Homo sapiens: one gene and its partners. Each later gene encodes a partner of the first gene's protein in a complex. Links are inferred from orthologs where the notes say so. Each region holds a gene or a part of one and is shown in the gene's direction. Other genes may lie near its edges.

Region 1 (4,650 bases):
GTCTCCAGCATATAAAGTCCACTAAAGGGCCCTAACTCAGCTGGTTCTTAATCTGGCCCTAGCTTTTATAATTACATTTTCTGCTACTTTCAACTCTGGCAATAAATGTTACATATTCCATTTATTTTAAACTCTTACCTTTACACTCAGCTGCTAGATTGAAACCATCACATATTCTGCTAAGTAAATTCATTACTTAGGAAGTAGAACTGAAATTTGCTTTTAAAAAGTATATATTTTATACCATAATGGTATAGGTTTGCTTTCATCAGTTCAATCATTCAGAAAAGGAAGTCATCAAATAAACTTTCAAAATCTGATGGAATCATTGAATAAATCCCGTGTAGCCTAAACTGATATTTCCATTTGATATCAATGCCAGATACATTGTAGTTACTCAGTAAATGTTTACTAAGAGAACGTATGGATGAGAAAAAAATATCTTTATTACTACTTTTTAACCATACTTTTCACTATACTATCATGTTTTATGCTCACAATCATATGATTAGTTGAAATTCTATATTAATTCTATATTAATTTTTTTGTAACATGCTGTCCCCCCACCCTTAAAATCAGATTATTGCACATGGTTGCCTTGGGAATTGTAATCAAATAGAGTGGGCTGAACACCAATGCCAGAACTTTCACTGATAAGACAACTGAAGCAAATGAATTTAGAGGTTAGCACAAGTTGACACAGACTCCATGGCATGGAGGTTCACAGCATAGGCTCTGAAAACCAAACAACTCATTCCTTAAACAACCTCAGACAGGTTATATAACTTCTCAGAGCTTCAAGCATCCTTACCTGTATAATGGCAATATTAATAGGATCTATTATGAGAAGTAACTGAGTTCATTCATGTAAAAGACTTAGTGCAAAGTATATAATAAAAATTAACGTTTGAGTATTAAGATTCAAGTCATTTTCATCCTCATCCTAGTGCTTGGAGATTGATTCTTCTATTTCCAATTCTTTAGCGCTCAAGGACGCTTTATAGTCGGGCCTTATCTCTAGAGCTAGATGATTCATATTCATTTCATGGCTTCTTTCAGAAAGTGCAGGTGGTGGTAACTGTTTTGGACTATGACAAGATTGGCAAGAACGATGCCATCGGCAAAGTCTTTGTGGGCTACAACAGCACCGGCGCGGAGCTGCGACACTGGTCAGACATGCTGGCCAACCCCAGGCGACCTATTGCCCAGTGGCACACCCTGCAGGTAGAGGAGGAAGTTGATGCCATGCTGGCCGTCAAGAAGTAAAGGAAAGAAGAAGCCTTTCTGCATTTGCCCATATAGTGCTCTTTAGCCAGTATCTGTAAATACCTCAGTAATATGGGTCCTTTCATTTTTCCAGCCATGCATTCCTAACACAATTCAGTGGTACTTGGAATCCTGTTTTAATTTGCACAAATTTAAATGTAGAGAGCCCCTAAGTCCTTCATCATACCACTGCCCTCCAAATCTACTCTTCTTTTAAGCAATATGATGTGTAGATAGAGCATGAATGAAATTATTTATTGTATCACACTGTTGTATATACCAGTATGCTAAAGATTTATTTCTAGTTTGTGTATTTGTATGTTGTAAGCGTTTCCTAATCTGTGTATATCTAGATGTTTTTAATAAGATGTTCTATTTTAAACTATGTAAATTGACTGAGATATAGGAGAGCTGATAATATATTATACGGTAAATATAGTATCGTCTGCATTCCAGCAAAAATATCAACTCGTAAGGCACTAGTACAGTTAAACTGACATCTTAAAGGACAACTTAAACCTGAGCTTTCTATTGAATCATTTGAGTACCAAGATAAACTTACACCACATACTTGGTGGGTGAATCCAATTTTGTAGAATTCCTACACAGGCAAAATAGCATGATCTGAGCAGCAGCATCCAGGCTGACCTCAAGGAAGCATAGCCACAAAACAGAATAGCACCTGTCTGTACATATTTACAAAGCTAAAATAATGGCTTCACTCTTATATTTGAGGAAGCAACTGAACAGGAGTCAATGATTTCATATTACTGCATATAGAATAACAACAAGGTGTTCCGTGTGTGTGTGTGTGTGTGTGTGTGTGTGTGTGTGCACATTTGTTTGGGGATGGGGGAGAAGAAGCTAAGGGGAGAAGTCAACATTTATGAAATATTGCCTGACTATTTAAAAAGAAAAAAGTAGCTCTCCATTATCACCTTTATACAAAATGTACATCCTGTGAATTCTGTTCCAGATTTCACACCTACAATAATTCCAAAAGGTTTGCACATTAGAGTTTGTAACAAAATATTTTATTATATAAAACCAGGTTAGAAGGAATGCAGGATATTTTTAACACAACAATCTGTGCTTATTACACAAAATTACTTTGTGGTAAACAGACAGTATTGTAATCCCATCAAAAGATGAAAGAAAAACAAAAACAAAAACCAACAACAATTAGCCATAGTTCTGAATGCACTTCAATTAAGCCAAAACAGACAGCTAGTGATCTTTTTATATGCTCTTTTTACTTAAGTTTTAATTTGTCCTTTAAAAAAAGGTGAAACAAACCAAGAACAAGTTCTAGAAAACTGAAGCAACCTCTTATGTATACTAGATGCTTGATTTAGGAGGAGTTTTTAAACGTTTTCAATGTTATTATGTAGTAAATGACACTATTATGAAGCTACTAGTCATTCCATAAGAGTCTTAAAGGACTGCTCTGTGTAACACTGTGACTGCCGTGTGTGCTTAGACCCGTAGTTTCCTCAGTGGATAGCACTCAATTTATTCCGTAGTGATATTGTAACAATACTGCCATTCCCTTCTACTGCACTGCCCAAGGTGTGTGTAGCACAAACAGTTCTCATTACAAAGGACCAATTCAGAACTGAAAAGCTATGCATAGGACAAGGAAGATACATAGAATGGGGTGGAACACAGCATTTTGTCAAGCACTGTGCAATATTCCATATTTTTCCCCACTATGGTAGACAACCATTTCGTGGAAGGGCAGCCTATTATCCCACACTGCATCTAGCCTTTTGTCCCATTCACTTCTGTGATCCATTTTAATTTCCAGGCCACAAGACAGTAGTGATGCTCTGAAATGAAAGTTTGTCTTCACAAATATCAAAACAAAATGGAGGAAAACTAAGCATTGGCCTCATGTTCAGTCTTCAGGATATCACACCACGTCTTTTCAAAAACTAAAGAGAATTCAAAAAGGGCTGATGGTAGGCTTTGAACATGGGGTTGGCTGTTTCCCAGTAAAACTGGAATTCCTGTCGTTACTGTTTCCTTATCAAAGAAGGGGCAAGCTCTTTTGCCTTTTAGGCCAGACATAGCAAACGCTTTATAATTGGCATAGACATAAAGGATAAAAGGAAAATAACCGTCTGCCGATGGTCCGTACTTCTTAAAAAACATAGGTAATAGAAAATATACACAAGTCAGAATGTGAAATTAAATAATGGTTTGAACAGAAAATTCAAACAAGACTCTTTCCAATTTAAAGGGCCAAACCCTACCAAAGAGAGGGAGTTGACTGGCTTTTAAAAAGTATTTAAATACCACAAATGACATTTAATTTCACTGTATTCAGCTTTAAGTTGTTCACAATGAAACCACACTTTCAAACAAGCAGGTTCAAGCTGCTGAATAGACATTATTTCTTGCATTAAAATACCACTAATGCATTCTCTTGCAACACTGCCAGACATGGGATTGTCACCATAGAATTAGTTGGTACTATGCCATCTTTCACTCTTTCACAAGTCAGTGATGGAACCTGCTTTATGACCAAGATTCATCCTCAAATAAGCCACATGTACCCTTCTGACAAAGCTGTGTAAAGTATTAGAATCTGATGCTCTAGAAAGATCCTAGTTGCCTTTGTGTATATTTACTGCCTGCTTGAGTGTTTCTATGTGTGGGTTTTCCCTGTATCTTGTAGAAATGTTGGGGTGTTTTCCTCTGCCATATGGCTCGTGGCCTGCGAGCCAACTATTTCAGCTGTATTTTACCTTCATTTTTGATGAGGTGATTTAAATTTTGTTTCACTTTGTGTAGTGAATTCCACAGTAGTTTTCTGATTGTTGTTAAAAATGACTTAACATATTACACAGATATTCAATAAAAATGTTTTATTTCCTGTTGATGTTGCTGCGTTCCCACTCTTTTCCTTGCCTGACTCTGGTGGTAAGCCAATGGCCTATTGACTTTGGGGGACTCCTGGAAGCAGCAGCAGCTAAACAAAACTGCACTGAATGCCAGCATCTGAGTCACATCTGAGTACAGAATAGCTAGAGGGAAAACAACACCCGGGAGCATTTGGCCATGACCGCGTGGTGTTCCTGGGCAGTGTCATTCTCAACATGTGTTTCTCTATTCCTGTGTGTCATCAGTTCATCTGGCGTACTCTGAGGCTTTTCACTTTGCCCAGCATGTGTCCTTCAGGGTTTTCACTCCAGAACCCAAGTCACACAGCTTCTCCAGAATGGGACGGAAAACAAAACTATTTAAACCCCAGTTTCAGAGGACAGTATGACACATTAAATTCTATGCCTACTACGATCGCTATGGGAAACAAGTAAATACTTTTCCTCCACTAAATTTAACATTTATCAAGTGCCTACTGTACTGGACGCTGAAGCCCAC
Region 2 (8,678 bases), on another chromosome or scaffold:
CCCTGTCTGCTGGCCTCCAGCTGCCCAGGCACCTTCCCTGGAACTGGACACCCTCCCTCTGCTGGGCGCCGCTATGCTGTCTACACTGCTGGGGTGACTGCCCTGTCCTGCAGCACTGCCTTGGCGCCCACTGCCCTGTGAGACGGTGCTGCCCTCCCGCACCTTCCCAGGCCCACCCCACCCTAAGATGCCCCTGCTCTGCCCTCCAGGGACAGCCCCAGGGACTCACTTCCGCCACTGTGCCCCCACCACACCCATGGACACAAAGTCCGACAGTCAGGAGGTCAAGCCCTAGGGGACACAGAGAAGGCCACAGCCCGGCTGAGCCGTGCACGCCCTTTCCCTAAGTGAGCACCAGGGCTGCCGGAGGGGTCCCGTGCTCCTGGGGAGCCAAAATAGCTCCTCCTCCCACTTCCTGGGCATGAAATGCTCCCAAAAATACCCACATGCATGTGATGTGGCCTCACTCCAGGTGTCACTGGAGGAGAGGGAGGGAGGGAAGGGGCATTCGGCGTTCTGAGCCTGGCTTCAACCCAGCTCTCCCTGCCCTCTGCCCCCCGCCTACCCCTTCCGGCTCCATCACACGGCACTCAAGACCCTAAGGAGCATCTGAGGCTCTGGGTCCCAGGAGTGCAGGTGTTTGGCCCAGGATCCTCCCGGGAAACTTCTCCTCCCCACGACTGGCAGCTCCCAGGATCTCTTGCCCATCTCCAAATTCCAGCACCACCCACTGTGCTCACCACCCAGCCAGCCACACCCCTGGGCCAGCCCTGCCTCTCCCAGACGAGCTGTCTCTCACCCTGTCCTCCGGGAAGGCCCCTGAAGCCCCTCCTTCCTGCCCTGAGGTGTTGAGGCTGGGAGGGCGGAGTCCCTCGAGCAGCTGCAGCCCACAGCAAGGCCCCTTTCCTCCACAGCCTCTGGGTTTGTCCACCCCAAGCCCACTCCCCACGGGCGGCTCTTTTGTTGCCCTGGGTCCCTGGTGGATCAGGGTCCCCGGCTGAAGGAGGCCAGATCCACACCCCACACTCAGCGCAGGGCTGGAGCCGGTGGCTCCCCCTGAAGCTGGAGGGCCCTGGCCTGGCGGGTGGGCTGCCCGGGACCTGGCCTTGCCCAGCTCAGAGGCTCCCTCCAGCCAGGGGTGAGTGCCGCTGACCCGGCTACCTGGTGCTGCTGACTGCATGGTTGGGACCATGCTGGGCCGCAAGAGATCAGCTCAGAGCGGGCCCCATGTGTGCCCTGGGGCACCATGAGATCTGGGCACCGTGTGACCGGGCAGCCGTGGATCCCAGGACCCCAGGGCAGGGCCTGGGGCACAAGCATTCGCTCAGCTGCGGCAGTACCTCTGCTCTGCTCCCAGGGGCCCACTAGGCTGACCTCCCAGGCGCTGGCTTCCCCCGGCTAGATGCTGGACCTCTCTCACCCAGTGGAGGAGGGGAACGGGTTCAGGGCGCTTCCCAGGCGAGGACACCCTCCACTCAGCCCAGGTCCTGCCCCAGCTCTGGCAAACGGCAAGGGTCTACATCTTGCTTTGCTCACGCTTTTCACGTGTTGTTACTTTTGGAATATCAAAATCCAGCAGGAAAATGACAGCGTGGATGGTGTCGGCACTCAGACTGAATCACTCAGCACATGTAACTATTAAGTTTGTGTTTGAAGGTTCTGGGTGGGTGCTGTGGGCCGGATCCACACATGCGGTGTGGCAGAGCGCTGCCCTCCTGCTGGGCCCATGGGGGACATGGCCCCCTGGCCACACCCCACGCCAGGACTGAAGGCCAACCCCAGGAAACCCTGACAGTGCTTCCCAGACCCTTTCCTGGCCCAAGGCAAGGAGGATGCCTGGCACCCAGGAGGGCTATGGGCAGATGGGACCCAGAAGATGGGAGCAGGGTGGCAGTGGAGGCCTTGGCAGGGGCTTCCAGAGAGGCTAGAGCTGGAGGTTGCAGCAGGGCAGCTGCCTCCTTTCCCTGCTGTCTGGAGTGACCCCGCAGGGTCTCAAACCCAGTGCCACATGGTCCTCACACAGTCCTGCTTTGTGCTCCTGGGGTCCCTGGCCTCACTGGGGCTGGGGATGGAGCATCTGAGGAGCAGAGGGCTGGCTGGGCCGGGGGTACCATCCATGTCCAACCGGCTGGCACAGGCCCCACAGCCAGGGCTCGGCCCAGCCAAGCACTCACACTTCTCCAAGCTGACCTCTGGGGGAGCCCTCGTTGGAGCTCCATCCTGCTCCTCCCGGACTTGCTCCACACCCCACCTCCTCCTTCTCCCAACATCCGCCTGGACGGGGTGGCCTCCAACTCTTCCCCGGCCTGCAAAATGTTTTCCCTGCCTGGATCTTCAACCTGGCCTTCAACCTGCTGGCCCCTTTCTCACTCAGCTCCTGCCCCTTTCCAGCCGGCTGGAGGTCTGCGGGGCTTCTTCTCCAGGGCTCAGGGCCTCCTCTGGGCACTCGAAGGGCCAACCGCACCTGCCCTGGTGTGGCCAAGTGGCCCGTGGGGGTTGGCAGAGGCCTTTTGCCGCGTCACCACCTTCTGCCACTGGAACGGAGCCTGGGTGGCTCCTGGCCAGCAGCCTGTGACTCCCATCCCAGCTGGGCAGCCCTGGCCTGGCTCACACACCCTGAGTGGGCACCACCCTGAAGCCCTCCAGCAGATGCCCACTTTCCCTTCCCCTGGCCCAGCTCACACACCCTGAGTGGGCACCACCCTCAACTCCTCCAGCAGATGCCCACTTTCCCTTCCCTAGGCCACTTGTCACTCTGACCTGGGGCTGTCACCAACCTTGTCTATTTCCCCCAAGTTGTGGCTGGGCCCCCCCACCCCCAGGTTAGGGCCTAGACAAGTGTGAGAGCTGAGAAGCAGTCACTGCATGTGTGGCTGGATGTAACAAGTAACAACAGGGACAGGCAGAGACAGAGAGAGACGGACACAGAGAGACAGAGACAGACACAGAGACAGAGAGATACAGCGACAGAGAAAGAAAAGACAGAAAGACAGAGACAGAGATAGAAAGAGACAGAGAGACAAAAAGACACAGAGACAGATACAGTGACAGAGAAAGACAGAGACAGAAAGATAGAGACAGAGAGACGGGCAGAAAGACACAGTGACAGAGAGATACAGCGACGGAGAAAGAGACAGAGAGAGAGGCAGAGGAAGACAGGGCAGAACGTGAGGGCTGGCAGAGGGTCTCTGTCCTCTGTGCCCCAGGCCCCAGCTCCAGGTGTGCTTGGAGCTCAGGCTGGCCTGGGTTGTAGAACGGGGAGGGGTCAGCCTAGGAGTCCAGTGCTTCTGCTCGGAAGAACGGGCACCTCCCTGCACTCCTGTGCAGACTGTCCCAAAGGCACCAGCATATCCCTTGCATGCAGCTTGTGGAGGTGGCAGGGTCAGTCATGAGCCTGGCTCTGGGCTCAGGGGGTCACCCCTGGGGTCCTCTCTGGGGTTACTGTCCGGGTTAGCTGTTGGGTTATCCACCCAGTTAGGGATGGAGAGAGAAAGCACCAGGGCCGAGAAGTGACCTCTTTCTTGGACCCGAACATCTCACCCTTGCTGTCCCCTCCCAGGTCCTGAGGAGACTAGAGGAGCAGATGGAGCAGAGCAGGCTGGGGCTCAGGCCGGGCCCCCAGGCATGTGTCCTGCCTCCTGTCCCTGGGCCCAACGTTCTGAGCCCACTTGGCTCAGATCCCGGGAGAGAGGAAGGGACGGTGCTGGGGGTGCCCATGGCTTCCAGCCAGGGAGGCTGAAGAGACCCCAATCCTAGGGCATGGGTCCCCCTCTGGGAGGTTGCCTGTGAACCCCCAGGCCCACGGGACCCTCATGGCTGTCTCAGGGAGCCCCCATGGGCTTGGCCCTGGTGCCTTCACCCTTCCCTCTCCCCCAGCGCTCCCTTCCTCTGCGAAGGGTCCCCTGCCAAGTCAGCAGAAGAGTGGGGACGGGGGCAGAGGCGCTGGGGCCAAGGCTGGGAGTCCAGGCCTCTGAGTCCTCCTGAGCTCAGGCTAAACACGGGGCACCGGAGGGGATGGGGCTGAGGGCGGGGGAGGGGCCGCATCTTCCCTGCGCCAGGGGAGTCCCCAGGACTCAGCAGGGAGGGGACAGTGACAAGTTAGTGCGGCGGCCACCGGCAGCGGCCCCCCTCCCCCCTCCCCACCCCCACCCCGCCAGGAGCACAGGGCAGCTCTAGGGTCGCGGTGCGCCCCATCCCTCCCGCCGCCTGGCTCCCGACACTGCACAGCGCGAACCGCAGGGCCGACCTTGCGGCGACCCCGCTCTCCCGCAGTGCCGCGTCCGCTGCAGAGGAAATCCCGGGGGCCAGGGGAGGGAGCGGTGGGGTCTCTGGCCTTCGTCCCGGTAAAGGAAACAGCGACTCCGTTACACCGAAAGTGAGCCCGGGCCGGCCTGCGGGTCTCTGGCTGCGAGGGGCTTGCGTGGGTTTTCAGGGGTCTGGGGGCCCCCTTCTCCCGCCCTGCGATACGGGGAGGTCGGGGCAGAGGGGTCGGGGCGGCGGGCGGCGCTCAGGGACACGGTCACCGGAGAATGGGGGCGGCAGCGACTCCCAACCCCTGGCCCCTCCGCTCGGGAGGCAGCGACTTCTCCGCCCGAGGGTTTTGCACCCACCGGCCCCGCGCGGACCCTGTAGGGAGCAGGCCCGCACCGTCGGGCTGGGGGCGGGGGGGCAGAGCCGGGGGCGCCCAGATCAGGGGCGGGCGGGGGTCGCAGGCGCCCGCCGGGGGAAGGTCGAGCCCGGGCCGGGTTGGAGGGAGGCGGGGGCGCGTCACTCGGGTCCACCCCCGCCCCCGCCCCCGGGTCCACCCCCGCCCCCGCCCCGGGTCCACCCCCCGCCCCCGCCCCCGCCCCCCGCCCCCGCCCCCGGGTCCACCCCCGCCCCCGCCCCGGGTCCACCCCCCGCCCCCGCCCCGGGTCCGCCCCCCGCCCCCGCCCCCCGCCCCCGCCCCCGGGTCCACCCCCCGCCCCCGCCCCGGGTCCACCCCCCGCCCCCCGCCCCCGGGTCCGCCTCCGCCCCCGCCCCCGGGTCCACCCCCGCCCCCGCCCGGCGCCCGCGGCCCCGCCCCTCGGCGCTCCCCTCCCCGTGCTCGTCACGCTCGGACGCGGGCGGGGGGCGGGGAGCGCCTGCGAGTGACGCGCCCTCCTCGCGGTGCCCTTCAGCCGCCGCCGCAGCTCACCGGGCGCCACATGGACCCAGCCGGCCCGAGCGCGCCCCGCCGCTGACCGCCCGCGCCCCGGGAAGGTAACCGCGCCCCGAGCGCAGCGCGCGCCCGGCCTCCGCTCCCCGGGTCTCCCCTCCCGGCCCCGGCGTCTCCTCCCCGGCCCCCGCTTCTCCCCGCTTCTCCCGCCGGCCCCGGTTTCTCCTTCCCGGCCCCCCTTCTCCCCGCGGCCCCGGCTTCGCCCAGCTCCTCCCCCCGGCCTCCGCTCCCCGGGTCTCTCCTCCCCGGCTCCGGCTTCTCCCCCCGGCTCCGGCCTCTCCCTCCGGCCCCCGTTTCTCCCCCCGACCCCGGCTTCTCCCCGCAGCCCCCGTTTCTCTCCCGGGCTCCGCGCGCGCGGGGTCCGGGGCGGGCGCTGTCCACTGCCGCGGTGCTGAAGCGGCCCCCGCGGTCCCGGCCCGCGCCCGGCCTCCTCCTCGCTTCTTCCTGTCTCGAGGCTCCCCCTCTCCTCCCTCGCCCTCTTTCTTTCCTCTCCTGGCGCGCTCCCGCCTGAGGGCCGCTCGCCCGCCCGCAAAGCCGAGGGGTGCGGGTGCGGCGGGGCCGGAGCCCTGCGGGTCTGCGGGGCCCGGCCGTGCCCTCCTTCCCCGCGCCGCGGGAGCCAGGGGAGAAGTTTGGAGGAGAATCGGCGCTGCGGCAAAGCCTCCGAGGGGCGCTCCCCGCCCGCCGCCCTCCCAGTCCCCGCGCGAGTCTCCTTCCTCTGCGGAGGGCGAGGGGTGAACCGTCAAACAGTGTCTCTCCAGGGACCTGGGGTTCCCCGATAGGAGAGACCCCGCAAAACCGGGGGGCTCACTGCGGCTGCTGTGATTTCAGAAAGCGGCTTCCCAAGAGGGGACCAGAGCGCCCCACCCCACCCCATGCACGCCCCCGGGGCGGGGGTGCTCTGTCCCCGTCCCCACGTGTTTCCTGAAGGCTGAGCCCCCTGAAGTTTCTCCCCAACCCCGATCTCTTCTACGCGGGCCATGTGGGGGGCACACTGACTGCAGTGCCGTCAGGGATAGGGTCACCCAAGCCTCCCTGGTCAGAAGCCACAGGAGCCCGCCCTGAAGGGTACCCGCTCAAAGACCCACCCCCAACCCTTCTCCACGGCCCTGGGCTCGGGACCACCGCGGAGGCGCCGCTCCAGACACTGAGCTGCAGAGCGGAGCAGTCACCTTCAAACGCCCCCTGGGCCCCGCCCCTGCTTCCGCAGCCTGGCGCCAGGCGCCTCTGAGCGATGCCCCCTAAGCCATCAGCAGCCCTCCCTGCAGAGGCTTCAGACACCCCAGGAGCTGGGGAGACCATTTTCAGGTCCTCTGGGGTCCTGGTTTGGGTGTGGGGACAGAAGCCCCTCACGAAGGACTTCCCAGGCAGCCGCTCCAGGTGGGGGAGGGTCCAGCCCACAAGGTATTGCGGGTAAGGAATGATGGTCTCTGGGGAAGGCCAGGCAGGGGCCTGCTTAGGGTGACCTGTGACCACTTCACTCTCCCCCAGGAAGAACACTCGCTCCCGGCCATACTTGCGTGTGAGTTCTGACCCCTGGAGGAGCCACTGTGGAAGCAGAGCAATCGCCATGGAGTTTGTGATGAAGCAGGCTCTAGGAGGTAGGAAGCGGGAGGTGGGGTGGGGAGGGGCTGAGGGGACATGGAGAGACCACCACAGCAGCTGCTCCTCATCTGGCCCACCGCAGCAGCGCCCCTGCAGCCACACGGCCACCCACGCAGCCCTGCACAGGAGCCTGGGGCAGAGGAGCAAGGACCGTGCCCAGCAGCGCCCCCAGCCCGGCCCTTTTCGAGGCCCCGAGCCAGAACTGGTGTTCCTGGCGGGACAGGGGCTGCCCTGTAAGCTCACTCTGCCCCACTGCTGTGGTCGGGGCAGAGCCCATGGACCATGCTGATGCACGTCCTGGGGGAGGGTGCACACTCTGGCGTAGGCTTTACAGGGCCAATTCTAACTGGCCAGGCTGGGCAGCCCCCAAGGGGGCTTCCTTCCAGATGAGGAGAGCCAAGCGGTGGGAGAGCAGGATGCAGGTGGCAGCCTCAGGGACAGGCGTGGGGACAGAGCTGGCCTGTGCATCTGGCGAGGACCCTGTGGGTTTCACTTGGGTGAGGCAGCGCCATCCTCAGGGACCAGGGCTTGCTGGTTACGGGAGCGAAGGAAAAGGCCCGAAACAGCTTGTGTGTCTCGACTGCCTCCCAGGCGGGACGTGCAGCCTTTTTTGTGTGTACTGGGGTGGGGCCAGGCCCCCTTCCAACCTGCTGTCTGCTATTTGAAAGGAACCTCGTCCCCACTTGACCCAAGGCTGTCATTGTGGCCAGAGACCATGTCAAGAGCAGTGGCTGGGTTCCTAGACCAGGAGGTGGGCAGGGCCTGGGCCATGCTGGTACAGACGTGTCCCGGCAGAGCTGATGGGTCAACTCAGGCCTCGGGGCTGTCGTGGCGAGTCTCAGTTTTGCCCAGAGCCGTCCATCCTGTGTTCCCCCAGCACCAGTGCCCAGAACTCCTGTGAGGGGAACCTGTGGCCGGTGCCCGATTCTACCACTAGAGACGTCTTGCTTGGGTGGCCTCCACGGGGGAGCACCCTCACCTGATGCCATTCACACCTTGGAGTGAGTCAGGCCTCCTGGGAGCATTTCTGCAGTGGGGGAGCTGGCCGGGTTCGAGGGGCCAGGGACAAGGGTGTACAGAGGGCAGGCGCCGCTTCCCCCAGGGCAGGAGCTGCCTGCCTGGCTGTCTCCCGGAGGGTGGCTGTGCTTCCACTCAACACAAATTAAATGAAAAGATATTGAGCCTGTCCTGGGGCCACATCCCTGAGATTTCGTGGTCAAGGGTAAGAGTCAGGTTGAGTCTAATTATAATGGCTGCGTCACCGGGCTGTGATTCAGGGACAAGCCTGCATCTGCGCTGGGAGGGACGCACGTTCCACCCAGGGAGTCCCAGGCTGTTACGGATAATTAATTAGTTGGCTAATTCAGGCCCTGAGGTGGGCTTGTAAGAAACTGAAATATCTTATTTGGCTGTCTACATGACTGAAATTAGCTGGGTAATTACCAGCCTGAATTCCCTTTTTGTTTCATGGCAGCCCAAAGTTTCTCCAGCAGCAGCAACCGGGCAGGCGTCGCTCAGCGTGGTGGAGCTGAGCGGGGGCAGCCAGCAGACCCTGGGGGGGCTCCACGCTGAGTGCTTCCCAGAGCACCCCACATTGGCTTTGCAGAGCACGTTGAGGCTCGGAGCCAGAGCTGCTGAGGGCGGGAGCTGGTGGGGGGCTTCCAGTCGAGACCTTGTTTTCTGCCTCTGCGCCTCTGTCCCTCACCCGGCGAGCCTCATTGTTGCTGTCTCAGGATGCGTGTGAGTGAGACAGAGCAAGACAGAGATGGGAAATGGGGGAACCTCCAGACAGCACGACAGAGCTTGGCAGAGACCCCAAGAGAACTATTGAGAAACAGACCAAGCCCCGGACACAAAGAAGCTGGCAGGAGAGGGAGCA
Region 3 (7,915 bases), on another chromosome or scaffold:
CGAAACTCTATCTCAAAAACAGCAAGAAGAAAAAACTACAGGACTCCCACCACCCCACCTGGTGATGCTCATGAACATTCCAAGAGAGAAGGTCCTACAGACCAGAGCTACTCAACGTGTGCTCTGTGAACCAGCAGCTTCAGCATCACCTGAAGGCTGGCTGGAAATGCAGAATCAGCTGGCCACGATGGCTCACGCCTGTAATACCAGCACTTTGGGAGGCCAAGGCAGGTGGATCTCTTGAGGTGAGGAGTTCGAGACCAGCCTGGCCAACATGGTGAAACCCTATCTCTACTAAAAATACAAAAAATTAGCTGGGCGTGGTGGCATGCACCTGTAATCCCAGCTGCTTGGGAGGCTGAGGCAGCAGAATTACTTGAACCAGGAGGCAGAGGTTGCAGTGAGCTGAGATGGCACCACTGCACTCCAGCCAAGGTGACAGAGTGAAACTCTGTCTCAAAAAAAAAAAAGAAAGAAAGAAATGCAGAATCAGTGACCCCATTTCAGACCAACTGAATTAGAATCCCTGAGGGTAGGGCCCAGCAATCCATTTTAACAAGGTTTCTGCATATTCTGACTCTGGGGGAAGTTTCAGAAGCTCTGTCCTGGACCACACCTTGTAAAGTGCTGATTTGGGAACACTGAATGCTACATGGGAGTGTCAGAACAGTTCATCCATGTCAGTTAACATGAATTGAACCCTTACTAGGGGTCAGACCCTTTGCTAATAAGCACTGGTGATTTGAGATAATTAATTAGATACTGTTAGGCTCTTAATAGACTGGGAGTTTGTCTTACAATCAGAGCCTCGGGGAATAGTTTTGAGTGGCTTTTCTTCCTAATTTCTTCTGCTTCCTAGTTTCCTCTTTCTACCTGCTCTGCAACACACAAGATGGCAGTTTATTGTGCTAATATGAGGGATGTATTGCAGGCTGCCTTGATCATAAATGCCACTTCACTACTAACGTCCTTTCAGCTACTGAAATTACTATTAATAAACATCCTTATGCCTCTTCAGCTGCTGTCTTTTAGAATGCTAACATGCATGAGTTTGGGGTTTATAGGAACAATTTATTAAACACTAGCAGTAAACATCCCAACAGAAGATCTGGAGGTACGCTCAGCGCCCACTCTCCAGCCGTTCTTATTAGGAGAGGGGGAATTGCTTTTTCAGCTTTGAAATGCTGTGTGTTTGAGATCCACCAGATTCATCAGCCCTCCTCCCAAATCACAGACGTATCTCCATGTTTTAGAGCAGGACAAAGGTGTGGGAGTTCCTGGGGGAACCGTGAAAGTGATGAAACCAAGGGTATCTGCCACATGGCTTCTCCGCCATCGCACCAGCTGCCCATCAGCCAGGCCTGGATAGGCTGCTGTCAGCTTGGAGCCAGGGCGCCCTACAGCTGTTCTTCACATGCTGAGAATAACAACTTTGAGAGGAGATTGCCAAGGAAACACAGGAAACTTGAGTATGTGTGAGAGAGAGGGAGAGCGAGAGAGAGAGAGAGAAGAGAGAGAGCATGCACAGAAACATTCATCAGCAAATAGACCTGAAGGAGTGGGACAGAGCAATAGCACTACAAGTCTGAAAGCACATGGACCCCTGCCTTCTAATAAACTGGCCTGTGAAAAGGAAAGGTCAATGGCTTGCTTAGGCCGAAGATACACATTTCCCCCCCAGGAACCCAGCAGCAAAATATAAAGATGGAGCGTGGGGCCAGAAGGCACTCTTGTTTGTCTCCTCGTGGTACTCCTGTGAGAGGTGCTGCTTGGAGACTGGAGGCTCAGGCACTCTGCTGGTTTCCCTGGTTTCAAGCTTCCATGGGTGCTCAGCACCACAGCAACATGTCTTGTGCCTAGCCGTTAGTAGAGGAAAGCTGATTAACAAATACCGGGTTTGTTCCACTCTTAGCCAAGGGTGTAGGGCTGTCCTGAATTAGTGAGGCTTTCTGAATATTAAGCTCCACATCCTTTTTTACAAAAAATGTTGGCCAGAACTTTTCTGTAATTTATTCCCCTCAACAACCCCATGAGATTGGCATTGTTTGTCCTGTTGAGAAAACTAAAGCTCAGAGATGGTGATGAACTTACCCAGACTCACCCAGCTTCTGAGCGCCAGAGCCAGCGGTCCAGCTGGGTCTTTCTGACATCAATGCCTTTATCCACCCACTCCACTGAACTATGGTCCATAGTCTACTCAACTTCCCCACGGGTCCACTGCTTTATTCTGGAGGGTAGATCCCCGGTCACTTGGGAATACTAAAATTTCATTTTTGTGCATCTTAAGATTCTGGAGTGACTTGGTGTAAATTCCTTCCAGTGTCTGTTTTCTAGATCCTAATTTGTAAAATGGAGACATGGAAATAAAGTCTCATGTATTTAAATAAAACACAGTGTTCACATCTCTACATCATCTCACGAGCACATGTTCTAGTGGCCAGAACACGCATTCGAAAATTAGCAGGCTCATCGTAAGATGCTCTGTCAGTTATAAAATGACTGCCCATAAAGCTAACCTCACATAAACTTACTCCATTATTTGTTTAATGCCAGTGGTAGAATAAGGCAACCCTGAAGTTTTGTTATTTCTTTTTTTACTCAGATTCCATATTTGTTGCTTTGCCCGGCAATCACTGGGTAGAGAACGGTGAAACCTGTTATCTCCAAAGAAGTTTCACTTTAGGATTCCTTCTAAGAACCCTAAAGAGTATGATTTCTCCTTTTTCACAAGAGCAATAAATTTGGAAAGTGATATTAATATGTACTAAAATTCCATCCTTGTTGAGAAAGCAATAGAATCGTGGACCTGGAGGGTGAGATGGCAGAGCCTCCTCCCCCAGGATCAGATCTAGGACCTGCCTCTGGGAACTTTTGTTCCCTTGCCTCCCAATGAGTATGTTCCTGATTTTTTTTTTCATACAGAATTTTCATTTTTATTTTTCCGAAAAGTGATTCTCATTCTCATGCAAATAATAATAATAATAAACATGGTAGTGCCCCAAGGCCCCAAATCTAATTTCCTCTCCCAGCTTCGGTTTTCAATAGAAAGACAAACAAAAATATGTTTTTTGGTTAGGAAATCATGCTCATATGCAATGTTTCTGTTTCATTTTAAGTTTCTTCAGACATTTACTAGTTAGTGTAACACAGGCTGCTATAACAAAACAACCCTCACATTTTCCATAGCATAATAGAAATATATTGTTTGCTCACGTAAGAGTTCAGGTGTTACTGGCCAGGAGTCATTTTTCTCCATGCAGGGATATGGAGGGCCCAAGTTCCTTCTGTCTCATGGTCTCATGGCTTAACCATCCTTTAAGACTGTATTTCTGGCAGAAGGAGAAACAGAGGGAGGAGAATACCTGCTTCTGAACTGCCTTAGACTGACAGGGACACACTTTGTTCTACTACCACTCATGGACTGTCTCTAGCCACAGAGCACCACTTCCTTGCAATGGGAATTAGAAATGTAATTCCTGGCTGCACAGCCATTTCCCAGAGATCATGCTCTACCATGCAACAGTGAGGTTAAAGTGCACAGTTGACCATCTCCGCTACAAGACAAGAGCCCATGCCTTCTTCAAATGTGCTACTCACAGAGAATTTTTCATTCTATCAGATACCTACCCCATCGGGCCCTTTGCCCCCTTCCCTTCGATGGCCTGGGGACATGGCTTCCTCAGAAAGGCCTGTTGCAAACCCATGGGCACCCATGATACCAGACATGTCCCCTAGTGTAATTATCATCATCCTGAATCATCTAATTCCCTCTTTTGCTTGCATCTCCCCAATTAGACTGAATTCTGTAAAGGCAGGGAATTTGCCTATCTTGTCCATCACTGTATCCCTAGTGCCTAACACTGCCTGGCATATTACAGGTGCTCAATAAATATTTGAGAAGGAAGGAGGAAGGAGGGCTCTCTCCGGAATAGACCCAGTCCTTGTACCTGTCATTTGTACCATGTGGGATTTCAAGAGAGTAGCCAAGAAATGGACTGGTCACCTTTCAGGACCAAGGACCCACCCTCTTTGGAGTGATAGCAGCTCACCCTCACACAAGCCCTTTTGGCAACCTCTGATGATGACTGAAATAGATGAAAGATTTTCTGCCTTTGGCTTCCACATGCTTCTAAACACAATGGAACACTATTCAACAACAAAAATTGAATGAACTATTAATACATGCTGCAACATAGATAAATCTCAAAATAATTATGCTAAGTGAAAGAAGGCAGACAAAAAGTAGTACACACTATGTGATTTTTATTTATATAAAATTATAGGAAATGCAAACTAATGTATAGTGACAGAAAGTAGATCAGGCTGGGTGCGGTGGCTCACGCCTGTAATCCCAGCACTTTGGGAGGCCAAGGCAGGCGGATCACAAGGTCAGGAGATCGAGACCATCCTGGCCAACACAGTGAAACCCCGTCTCTACTAAAAATACAAAAAATTAGCCAGGTGTGGTGGTAGGCACCTGTAGTCCCAGCTACTCGGGAGGCTGAGGCAGGAGAATGGCGTGAACCCGGGAGGCAGAGCTTGCAGTGAGCTGAGATCACGCCACTGCACTCCAGCCTGGGCGACAGAGCGAGACTCTGTCTCAAAAAAATAAAAAAAAGAAAGTAGATCAGCAGTTTTCTGGGCATAGACATGTGGGATAGGGCAGGGGCCAGTGGGTGGGTAGGAAATTTGGAGGAGTAATGGCTATGTTCATTGTTTTGATTGCAGTCATGGTTTCCTGGGTGTATACATATGTCAAAACTTCTCAAGTTGTACACTTCAAATATGTGGGGTGGACTGTATATCTGTTATACCTTAATAGAGCTATTTAAATAAATAAATAAATAAATAAATAAATAAATAAATAAATAAATGTGATGATAAAAGTACACTAACCCCAAACCACATCCCTCCAACCTCATCATTCCCAACCCTTGGGTAGTTTGTCTCTTTAAAAATATTTCATCGGTAGATAGGTGTCTATCTCCATGGCAGAATTGGCAAGTATGTATTTGTGGCATCCTTCGGAGAAACAGCACAATTCTGTTGACCCCTGTCTGAGTATGGCTTTCAGATCAGAAAACTGAGTCATGTGGACTGAGTATGGGCCATTTAGATTTTCTGGTCTTTGCACACACCTACATGAACATATATAAGCTCTCATATTTTCATATCTACTTCTTCCCAGGTCCAGAGCCAAACCCGTCACTGACCCCCCAGCCCAGGCGCCCAGCCACTCCCCACCGCTACCATGGCCGAAGACGCAGACATGCGCAATGAGCTGGAGGAGATGCAGCGAAGGGCTGACCAGTTGGCTGATGAGGTAAGGAGTGGAGACCTAGGAAGGGAGGCAAAAGATGAAGGCCTGAGTGGTTTGTCTTATTCAGGTTCAGGTAGGGAAAGCCTTTCTTTCAATGTCTCAATTTCTTTTAGAAAAAGTAATATGACTTTGATTTTCTGTACACCTAAGGCTTCTGTGGACCAGAATAAGTTGATTATAGAAGCTGCATACAAATTACTGTCTTGGCCCTAACTCTCAATTTCCAGAAACCTTGAGAAGTCAAGGTCCTCTAAGAAAAGAAAGCAATGTCTTTGGGTGCCTTAATTCAGTGCTATGCTGGAGAAGGCTCAGTTCCGAGAACAGATTGTTAACATTTTCAGGAACTTTGCAAGCTGGTTGCTAAATGCAGCCATTATTAAAACTGAATTACATAAACTGACAATTAGATAGATTCTATTAAAATCAAAAGTAATAAACACTCAAACTTCATCACTTCCTAATTATTTTGCTACATTTTACTATTATCCATGATCTTGAGATTCATCCATTTTATCTGTAGGGTGGAAATAAGGTATAATAATGTGTTACCATGTGTCTTTCCAACTTCATGATCAGTAATATGAAGTTGTAGCTTAAAATCAGGCAGAGCTGGGTACAGCGGCTCTCACCTGTGATCTCGGCTACTTGGGAGGCTGAGGCAGGAGGATCGCATAGGCCAAGAGTTCATGACCAGCCTGAGCAACATAGAGAGACTCCCATCTCTAAAAATATTTAAAAATTTAAAAATCAGACAGAGTAAGAGTATTTATCACCCAAGAATCTGCAAATACTGCAGATCAGGACTTGACTTATTGTTTTGCTGATTGTCTAGACTTTAAAAAGTAGAGAAAATATTAATAATGCAGATTAAAGTTAAAAGTATGTATGTCTGCAGCCATTATACTATGAATAACACAAAAAGAGGAAATCTTCCAGTATTTGAAAATTATGATTCTCTAAGGCAAAGAAATCCTTTTTGTCATTCACAAATGAGTACAATTCCAACACATGCCTTCATTGTTTAATTTTCTTCTTACTCATTAATATACATGAAAATATCCAACCAACATTCATGTCAGAACTACTCTGGTTCATCACATGGTTAGCTGTAGACACAAAAGTTCAGCAAAAATCAGTAAAAGTTTTCTGTGAGAATCAATTGGCTATGCGGAATTTACAATAAAGAGAGTATTGTATATTTTATTATTATTTATAAATTTTGTGCTATTCATCCTTTATATCAGTAAAATAATAAACTTGAATACATGTATGTATTTGTGTATTTTTCCCAGAGAGCCGGTAGTTAAACCTTTACCAGCAGACTGCTGCTTGCAGCCATTCTATTTCAAAAAGCAGCTGGCTGACAGCTCTTCCAGGGAAGTTAACATCCTTCAGGTTCCTGCAGAATCTTGTTCAAAATAAGTTTGTCAGTTAAAAGCAAAGCTTTGAGAAATCACACTGGTTGTTGGATTCTAGTCGTTTCAAAAGAACTGAGAAAAAAGTGACAACGCAGTGCCCGGGGGACCATTGCAGAGCTCAGCCTTTCCGTCTCGTTTTTTCTTATCTAAGGATGAAGATAATTATTATAGCTCTCTCCTATAGGCTGGTCATTTCAAACATGCTTGATTTTTTTCACCCTAAGGCAACAACTTAATTTGTATTGATAAGAACTTCCAATTGTGTTTCTAGGAGCTTTGTAAGAAACTTGATGTTATATTCATCTCGATTCATGAAAAATTATGTTTGTGTTTAAAATTTAATGTTCCTGGCCCAGGGAGGCCAAATTAGTCCTCTGAGTAATTGAGATAATTTTTCATGCATTCTGAGCATGCAAAATTATCTTCTCCAGATTACTTTGTCTTTGATATCAAGATCAGCTTCATATGGTTTTTATTTTCTGAAGATAAGCTGTAATGTAATTGCTTTAGGGAATCTGATCATGTAAAAAGCCTGATAGGAAAGAGTTTGAAAATGTAATGACATTTTTTGTTTCACTTGCCAACTGAAAAGAATATGTGACAGAGACCCTTTGTGTTTCTCAAGTAAATAAAGTATTTCTGATTTTCCAAGATCTCTGGATCCTGCACTCATAAAGTTTATGTTTGTTTGTTTTTTAAATCTTAGTCGCTGGAAAGCACCCGTCGTATGCTGCAACTGGTTGAAGAGGTAAGAAGTGACAGTATTTTAAGATAAAGGAACAAATCCCTTATGCTGATACATCCTTTCCTAGTTGCTATGATGTTTCCTTGGGCCATGATCCCCTAGATTCCAGTGTGGATGTAGCCTATCAGAAAGGCACAGAATGAGGGAGATGCTGTATTTAAGTTGCCAGATAGCCATGAAGACACCTTCACCCTCCTTCCCAGCCCAAGCCACCTCTGTAGTCTGGTCTGGGAAGCAGAGAATAATAGAATTTCCAAGTCTGTGCTCTCAAGAAATCACAGACGATTGTATCACTTTAAGCAAATTAGAGCAATTCTTAATATACAAAGGAATTATCTACATAAAACTTTATTTGTAATTATTTTTGTGCCTATAAATTACATCTAATCTTGAGATTCTGTTCTAACTTTAGCCACATATATGACTTTTAAA
Region 4 (8,418 bases), on another chromosome or scaffold:
TGGAGACACGGTCTTGCTCTGTTGCCTAGGCTGGGGTGCAGTGGCACGATCATGGCTCACTGCAGCCCCAACCTCCCAGGCTCAGGTGATTCTCCCACCACAGCCTCCCAAGTAGCTGGGACCACAGGTGTGTGCCACCACACCCAGCTAATTTTTGTATTTTTTGTAGAGGTGAGATTTCGGCATATTGCCCAGACTGGTTTTGAACTCCTGGGCTCAAGCGATCACCCCTGCCTCAGCCTCCCAAAGTGCTGGGATTACAGACGTGAGCCACCTCACCCAGCCGGACTATTGTTTTAAAGTGAACAGATGTATCTGGAGATAGTCTGGCAAAAATGAAGTAACATGCACTATGCAATTCATTGCAGCACTGTTATAATGGCAGTAGATTGGAAACTCACATCTCCATCAGTAAAGGGACGGTTGAATAAACTGATAAATTCATGCAGCAGAGTACTGTGCAGCTGTAAAAAGGAATGTAAAAAAAGCTTTAAAAAGGATCTCCAAGTGAAGATCTCTACGTACTGCTGTGGAGAGATCTCCAAGTGAAGAAAATAATGTGTGTAGTGTGCTACCTTCTCTAAGGGTAGCATATATATATATATATGTATTAACGTTTTTAAAAATGGGTAAACCAGCTACTCAGGAGGCTGAGGCAGGAGAATCACTTGAACCTGGGAGGCGGAGGCTGCAGTGAGCCGAGATCACGCCATTGCACTCCAGCCTGGGCGACAGAGCGAGACTCTGTCTCAAAAAAAAAAAAAAAAAAAAAAGGATAAACCAAATACTAATGGAAATTGATAACACTGGGGAGGGAGTGGATATTGAGGGAAGCTGGATTCTCTGAGTATACTGTGTTAATGTGTTTTTCATTTGGAACAATATAGATGTCTTACATAATTACAAAACAAAATGAGTAAATGGAGACAGTAAATGTTCCATACGTGTTCCATTTTGTTCTGTTCCTACAGATGTCTGTAAACAGTCATCTCAGATAAGGAGTTTGTATTTCAATTTTTTTTCTCATTTCTCAGTCCTTCCAAACTTGATTTTCATCACGTGTAAATCTCAGTTTAAAGACTTTTCAGTAGACCAAATCCAATGGCCTTTTTCTCCCCCATGTTCTTTGCCACATTAATCCTGTTAAGTCACCCCTTCCTTGAAGTGCCCTCTGGCTTATGTAACTGTGAACTTTACTAAATTCTAGGCAAGAAGTGAGCATGGCCCCCTTGTTCTCGTCCATCATTCTCATTAACATTTTTATGGTACCTGCAAAGGATGTCTGTTGGTGGCAGCTGAGGATTCAAAGATAAGCAAGGCAGTTCTGCTGTCAAAACTGACACATAAGAGATTGTTAATGAAACAAAATATTTTGAGAGCAGGAAGAAAGTTACCTATTCTGGCATGAAAGTCCAGGAAAACGGCCAGGCACAGTGGCTCACGCCTGTAAGCCCAGCACTTTGGGAGGCTGAGGCGGGCAGACCACCTGAGGTCAGGAGTTCGAGACCAGCCTGGGCAACATGGTGAAACTCCGTCTCTACTAGAAATACCAAAAATTAGCCAGGTGCAGTGGTGGGCGCCTGTAATCCCAGCTACTCAGGAGGCTGAGACAGGAGAATCGCTTAAATCTGGTAGGTGGAGGTTGCAGTGAGCCGAGATCAAGCCATTGCACTCCAGCCTGGGCAACAAGAGCGAAACTGTCCCCCACCTCCCACCTTAAAAAAAGAAAAGTCCAGGAAAACTTCCTGGGAAAAAGGTGATACCTGCATTTAATCTTCAAGGAAGGATAGACCTTTCCCAGGCAAGGAGAAATTCAATCCAGGTGGATGGGATGTTTCTGAGGAGAAACAGATTGATAAATAGCATGGTGTATAATGCACTAGAGCTGTTTGGGATTGGAGGCAGGCTGAGGTCAGAGCCAGTTAGGGAGCTCCCAAAAACCATTTTTCAGCCCTTTTTCACATCATGGCAGGGAACCATTTGAAACAAAATTGAGGTAAGGGGAGGCAGCTGCTTCAGCCTGGAGGCTGTTGGCTCGGAAATTCTAGCTGCCCCAGTTTGATATGCTTATTAGATGTTCGTGTGGTGATATTGAATAGACAGAGATTTTGAGTCTGGGCTTGATGGGAAGGTCTGGACTGCAGATATAAATGGGAATCATCAGCATATAGGCAGTATTAAAGTCGGGACTGCCTGTGGTGAGCAAGAAGAGAGTAGAAGGCTTCCCGCCCCTGGGACTGAGCCCATAGGAACTCTAAAATTAAATGGCCCCAGCAAAGGGGACTACAAAGGAGTGGTTGGTGGGACAGGGCACTGGCACCTGGGGGAAAATGATGAGGTCTTCCCTCAGAACTTGAAAATATATACAGTCATTTGTGTATTCTCAAGGGATTGGTTCCAGGACCCTCCACAGATAATCAAAATTCACAAATGCTCAAATCTCTTATATAAAATGGCACATTTGCATATAACCTAGGCACATCCTCCAGTGTGTTTTAAATCATCTCTAGATTACTTGTGACACCTAATGCAGTGTAAATACTATGCAAGTAGTTGTTATACTGTATTGTTTAGGAAATAAATGTCAAGAGGAGAATGTCTATACATGTTCAGTACAAATGCAACCATCATAGGCCTAACTACATTTTCCATCCACAGTTGGTTGAATCCATGGATGCCAAACCCATGGATATGGAGGACTGATGGTATAAGTTTTCACTCTAAAAGTATGCAAGATTTCTATTTTAGCAAATAAGGTATCAGTGGAGAGTAGGCAAAGTCACCTTAAAGGGAAGAAATGGCTCCCTGCTGGCCAAATGCTCTCCTGCTGGACTTGGCTATAACCTAATTGAAAATGTTAACATATTTGGCTGGGTGCGGTGGCTCACGCCTGTAATCCCAGCACTTTGGGAGGCAGAGGTGAGTGGATCACTTGAGGTCCGGAGTTCGAGAGCAGCCTGGCCAACACGGTGAAACCCTGTCTCCATTAACAATACAAAAGTTAGCCAGGCGCAGTGGCTCACGCCTGTAATCCCAGCACTTTGGGAGGCTGAGGCGGGCGGATCACAAGGTCAGGAGATCGAGACCATCCTGGCTAACACAGTGAAACCCCGTCTCTCCTAAAAATACAAAAAATTAGCCGGGTGTGGTGGCGGGCACCTGTAGTCCCAGCTACTCGGGAGGCTGAGGCAGGAGAATGGCATGAACCCGGGAGGCGGAGCTTGCAGTGAGCCGAGATTGTGCCACTGCACTCCAGCCTGGGCGACGGAGCAAGACTCTGTCTCAAAAAAAAAAAAAAAAGTTAACTGGGTGTGGTGGCTCGTGCCTGTAGTCCCAGCTACTGGGAAGGCTGAGGCAGGAGAATCACTTGAACACCGGAGGTGGAGGTTACAGTGAGCTGAGATTGCGCCACTGCACTCCAGCCTGGGCGACAGAGTGAGACTCTGTCTCAAAAAAAAAAAAAAAAAGAAAAAGAATGTGTGTTAACCTGAAGACGGGTCAGCAATGAAAGTCTAGTAAAGGGAGAGTCCCTGAGGCCAGTCCAAGCACCATCCTGGAAAGCCGTCACATTCAGAGTAGTCCAGGAGTGCTGGCAAGGCTGCCAATAGCAAAGAGGTGGGGGTAGAAGATTGTTGCCAAGAAGAGTTTTCTGGACCCATTGGCATGGCTGCTTATTGCAGATGGCCAGATGCCATTAAAGATACAAATCCTCCAGTAATGTCATTGTGCATTTATACATTGACATTATGATTCTGATTTGGCTTCAGGGAGAGAATGTACTAGACATGTAGATATGAGTTTTCAGTCTGAGTGACAGTTAAATATTTATGATAAATTAATATTTATGTATTATGGCTTTATATTTCAGAAGATTGTGAACTTTGTTGGCATGAATGATTATTTCCAAGATCCAGCTTTGGAGTCTGCAAAGCCCAGGCCCGTGTCCCTGTCAGAGGTAAATTCAACCTGGCAAATGTTACCTGTGTGGTCTCTTCGGACATAGCCTGTCAGCCTTCTCCATGTATATATATCAGCATTCTGAAGCCTCCACATTTAGTAAGGCAGAATCACACGCTATTAGATCTGAGAGGGACCTGATGCAGTATCTAGTCCAAGCCCCCCTTTTCCAGATGAGAAACCTGAAGTTCACAGATGTGGAGAACTTGACCAAGAGTTGACAGCTTGTTAGCAGTGAGAACCCAGGTCCAAGCCCAGGTCAGTGCTGTCTGGAAGGTCCTGACCTTATCTGGCATAGACACATTCAGGATGTATTTCCCCAAATCACCATATTCCCTCTCACTCCTTCGGCAGGGATGGTCATCAAGTGTCACCAAGTGGCATGTCTTGGATCTCTGAGTCCAGGTTATTGATGCAAGAGCAAAGGAAAGATGAAGGGAAAAGCTGAAACAATTTACTTCTTCCTGCCCGGGAAGTACAAGTGTGTGGAGGGGAGGGGAGGGAGGTAGAGGAGAGTAAGAGAAAATGGAGAAGGGTATTGAGAGGATCCTTTTTGAGTCATTGGAGCAAATTAATGGAAGGGGAACTGTCCGGTTGGTCAGGTCTGTAAAAATCCCTCAACTTCCCCAGTACTTCTGCTACCACCAACTGAATGGACAGGATGAGGAGGTGTCCACTGTAAATAAGTAACCTGGACTGTTTTGTGAGGAAAGAGATGGAAGGAATCCAGGGGTCTCTGACTCTGGCAGTTCAGGATAGAAACCACACCTTGTTATCTCTGCTTTCTCTAAAATGTCCAGGTAAACTTGGAATAGGAGCACTCTGGATTTGGGAGACTGTTGTGAAAAAGGAGTTTGAGAGCAGTGGAGAAGGCAAGGGAGGTGTTTTGAAGGCAGCAAAAGCCCCTGAAATTATTGGGTCCTGCCATACTGAGACTGGGGTGCTAAGGAAGGGGCTGCCACATTCCCCATCTCCCTGTCTTCCCACTTGTCTTCCTAACATCACTGTTTTTTTCTTTAGTTCCTTCTATCTTTTACTAGGAAGGGCCTGGGAAGGGCTGGGTGCCATTTCCAGCTGTTCTTGTGACAACCTCCGGCCCTTTCATCATTTCTCCCCGTGCCCTGACTCCCTCCCCATCCTCTTTTCTCCTCTCCCCACCAATGGTCTCTCCCGATGCTCAGTGGCGCGGGGTAGGGGGGGGCGGAGGCGGGGCTGGAGTGGTGGAAGGGGGGTGGCAGGTCTGCATTGCCGCTTCCCTGGTGCCGGGAGCAGTCGCCGCTGCCGCCTCCGCCCGCGGCCGGGACCCCCGTCCTCGCCCGGGACTCCTTACCCGGGGAACCTAGACCAGGTGAGACCCCTTTCTCAGTCGCTCACCTCCTCCCCGCCCCTGGCAGAAGCATCTTTGCCTTGCCTTGCAGCCATTTTATCCTCCGATGCTTTGCTTATGGGGAGGGTGACGATCCCCTCTCTAGGGGTGAGGGGGGTTGGTGGGTTGGTGGTGGTTTGGGGATGGACATTTATTTCAGTTGTGCTCTTCAGGACACACACACACACACGCATATGTATAATATTGGTGAATGGGGAGGAGGGGTGTTTTTCTCTACCTTAACCAAGTCCCCACTATCCCCTTCGGAGATTAACGTGGTGGTGGGGTTGTGAGGTGGGATGAGGTTCCCTCAAACTCCTATCCCCTCCTCACCTTGACGTCCCCCCACCCCCAGGATGAATGATAAATGACCTTGGCTGGGGCTGGAGAATGGATGCTGCCTCAGTGTGCACGCCTGGACTTGGGTGGGTGGGGGGCAGGGGAAGAAGGGCAGGTGAAGGATGGAGGGAAGGGGAGTGAAGAATGGAAATACTGGGGAGACAGAGATGTAGAGCCGCCAGGTGTTGGGGGCATGGATGGCGGGGGCTGGCGGCAGTTGCTCCGGGGTGGGGGGAAGGGATGTTGAGTGAAGGTGGACACTTGTCTAGCAGCAGGACCAAGGGTGGAGGAGGTGCTCAGAGCAGGGATTTAGTCAGTTCTGGGGGCTTTTCCCTTATTCCGGAGCTGAGGCAAGATGGGGTGTGGGGGGGTCGCTGCAAATGCTGATAGGGGCGGTCTCTATGTCTGTGCATGCGGAGGTCTCTCCCTGCGTCCCCCTCTCTGCCTCTCCGTATTCCTCAGTGTGCATTCTCAGCTGACACCCTCATTTTTATCCCTCAGAACTGTGGGTGCTCCTATCTTCCTAACCTTGGTAGGATGTGGGGAGGGGAGGCGCAGTCTTGATGGTCCTGGGTGGGGGCTGAAGTTCGATGACCGGGCTGTCATGGGGAAGGGGTGCTCCCGCACCTCCCACATTCTACCCCCGCCCCCGCGGACGTTTTGATAAGTGATTGCTTTTTAATGACCTTGTCACCTGAGCTAGGAAGGCCTGGGGATCTGGGTGGACCCCAAAGTCAGGGGCTTTGACTGGGAGGGTGGGGGGTTCTGGACCCAGGGCTGGATGAGCTGTTCTGAAAGAAAGCATTTGCTCTGGAGTCCCCTGCCTGTCTCCACCCTCTGCAGAAAATCTCCTGGGCACATTTTTTCCTGTCAGGTGAAGTCAGCCAGCCTAGGACCTTGTAACCCTGAACCTTGTCTCCTTTAACCTCCACCTCTCCAAGTCTTGTCTCACTCCCCCAGGCTTAGCCACCCTGTGCTGTTTTGGGGGCTAAAAATAGCACCACTTCCTCACCAGCTCAAAGAATTTGTCTTCTTTCTTTCTCTCCTGACCTCCTGGGCTTGCTGGCCCTGAGGAAGCTGGCTGTTGAGACCTCATATCCTGCTGTGGTTGTGGAAGGCTTCCCTGCCCTACGTGCCCCTCTCAGGGGGAAATAGGGTCAACAAACATAGAGTATGGCTCCTGGTGGGTCCTGCCTCCTTCAGGGCTGGAGGGGAGATCCTGGTTAGGAAAGAGAGGAAAGCTAGCAAATTGCCATGCGCTGAGGGGATTCCGCAGTTCCAGCTCTTTCATGGGGGATGGTTGGGCCCTGAACCATGAAGAAAAGGTGACATAGGGGTCACTGCTTCTGGTCACCGTGGTCCACTGCTTACATCTGTCCTGAGGGGATAAGGCGCTGCTTGCCAGTGCTTCTCTCTGAACCACATAGCATTGCTTACCGTCTTCTACCAGGGCGTGTGTGTGTGTGTGCGTGTGTGTGTGTGTGTGTGTGTTTTAATGAAGGCCCTGGATGGGTGGGAGCACCGGAGGCAGGATATTTTTAGGGGGATGATTTCTGATCAGAATCTAGGCCTGCTTCCTCTGCTCCTATGAAGGAAGGGGGCTATCCCATGCCTTCCTCTGGAGAATGTCTTTTTTGGGGGGACACCCAAACCCCCTTTATTCTACATCCGCCTCCTACGCAATGCGGTGTTTGTGGACTCCTTCTTCCTTGACTCCTGGAGGAGGAGCAGAAAGGATTAAGGGGGATTAGGAAGGGAGGCCCTGGAGGGATGGGATGCAACTGTAGGCCTTAGAACCTCATGTTGGAAATGTATGCATTTGACAGTCATTTCCATTCTCACCCCCATCTGTGGAAAGGGGGCCTATCTATGACATTCTGAAGCAAGGTGGCAGTGGACAGTCATCACCTCTTTCTTAGCTTTCCATCTTTCCTCCACTTTACTTGGGTTCCAGGTCCCCCTTTTCTGGATCTTCCCTTGTTCTTCTGGAGGTAGTTAATGTGGGCCCAGCTACTGGAATTAGTTGAAACATAGATAGGGGTGTCTTGGGACTCTGTTTGCAAGGATGCTGGGCAACAGCATCTAAGTATGACCCCCCTGTTGTCCCTTGCTGCTTCCTGTTTCTTTCCCACTTTCAACATCATAGGAAGGAAGAAAACTAACATAGAGTATCTACTGTGAGATTACATTCTCACATCAACTCCAAGAAACAGTCTCCCAATTTAATTATCCCCAGTTAAAATAGATGGACACTGAGGCTTAGGGAGGTTAACTACCCTGACTGAGATCAGTTAGTAAGTGGCAGAGTTGGGATTTCAACTTAGGTCACCCCTAACAGTCATGTGCTTTGCCCTGAACCAGGATTCTCCTTGCCAGTGTCCCTTCCTGCTGCTCACCCTAAAGAGCATCCAAGATAGCTTTCATCTGGGGACCTTATGAGGTAGTATAGGGCATTTCACTATATTACTGTCACCACAAAATTAATAATTAATATTTATTCATCATTTTTATGTGCCAGGTGACTTATGGTAAGGAGCATAGATACATTATATCATTCGACCCTTACTTTCCCCTTTTTAAACAAGAAGAAACTGAGGCTTGGTCCCTTAGCTAGTATTTGCCAAAACAGGAAGTCAACCCCATGTCTTTGTGACTCTGGAAGCTGAGCATTTACCCATTAGACTATGTTGAGAGAAAATCCCTCCTTGTTGAAGCCTGTAAACATGGGACCTGAGGGAAGGACAGTGGAAGCCCCT

The links.
Region 2: the proteins of SYT1 (region 1) and CPLX1 are in contact, whole or in part, in a crystal structure (PDB 5W5C), measured with the Rattus norvegicus proteins. The link is inferred for Homo sapiens from one-to-one orthologs. Residues at the interface, in NP_001028852.2 of Rattus norvegicus: Glu271, Thr383, Gly384, Glu386, Thr406, Leu407, Gln408, Glu412, Met416; in NP_074055.1 of Rattus norvegicus: Val61, Met62, Gly65, Asp68, Lys69, Tyr70, Lys74.
Region 3: the proteins of SYT1 (region 1) and SNAP25 are in contact, whole or in part, in a crystal structure (PDB 5KJ8), measured with the Rattus norvegicus proteins. The link is inferred for Homo sapiens from one-to-one orthologs. Residues at the interface, in NP_001028852.2 of Rattus norvegicus: Cys277, Arg281, Lys288, Val292, Leu294, Glu295, Asn336, Tyr338, Asn340, Arg398, Arg399, Pro400, Ala402, Trp404; in NP_112253.1 of Rattus norvegicus: Lys40, Asp41, Ile44, Leu47, Val48, Asp51, Glu52, Glu55, Gln56, Arg59.
Region 4: the proteins of SYT1 (region 1) and SV2A are in contact, whole or in part, in a crystal structure (PDB 4V11), measured with the Homo sapiens proteins. Residues at the interface, in NP_001129277.1 of Homo sapiens: Thr291, Lys314, Lys326, Lys327, Lys328, Glu342, Ser343, Phe344, Ser345; in NP_001315603.1 of Homo sapiens: Asp82, Thr84, Glu85, Gly86, His87, Asp88.

The regions. Positions count from the first base shown.
Region 1 is NC_000012.12:79,447,859-79,452,508, forward strand, and holds the end of SYT1 (synaptotagmin-1), read left to right. Parts: intron 1-1,059; coding exon 1,060-1,266; 3' UTR 1,267-4,150; downstream 4,151-4,650. UniProt on the Homo sapiens protein: Calcium sensor that participates in triggering neurotransmitter release at the synapse. May have a regulatory role in the membrane interactions during trafficking of synaptic vesicles at the active zone of the synapse.
Region 2 is NC_000004.12:822,609-831,286, reverse strand, and holds the start of CPLX1 (complexin-1), read left to right. Parts: upstream 1-5,157; 5' UTR 5,158-5,241; intron 5,242-6,685; 5' UTR 6,686-6,764; coding exon 6,765-6,795; intron 6,796-8,678. UniProt on the Homo sapiens protein: Positively regulates a late step in exocytosis of various cytoplasmic vesicles, such as synaptic vesicles and other secretory vesicles.
Region 3 is NC_000020.11:10,270,241-10,278,155, forward strand, and holds part of SNAP25 (synaptosomal-associated protein 25), read left to right. Parts: intron 1-5,188; 5' UTR 5,189-5,251; coding exon 5,252-5,323; intron 5,324-7,444; coding exon 7,445-7,486; intron 7,487-7,915.
Region 4 is NC_000001.11:149,914,626-149,923,043, reverse strand, and holds the start of SV2A (synaptic vesicle glycoprotein 2A), read left to right. Parts: upstream 1-5,199; 5' UTR 5,200-5,305; intron 5,306-8,418. UniProt on the Homo sapiens protein: Plays a role in the control of regulated secretion in neural and endocrine cells, enhancing selectively low-frequency neurotransmission.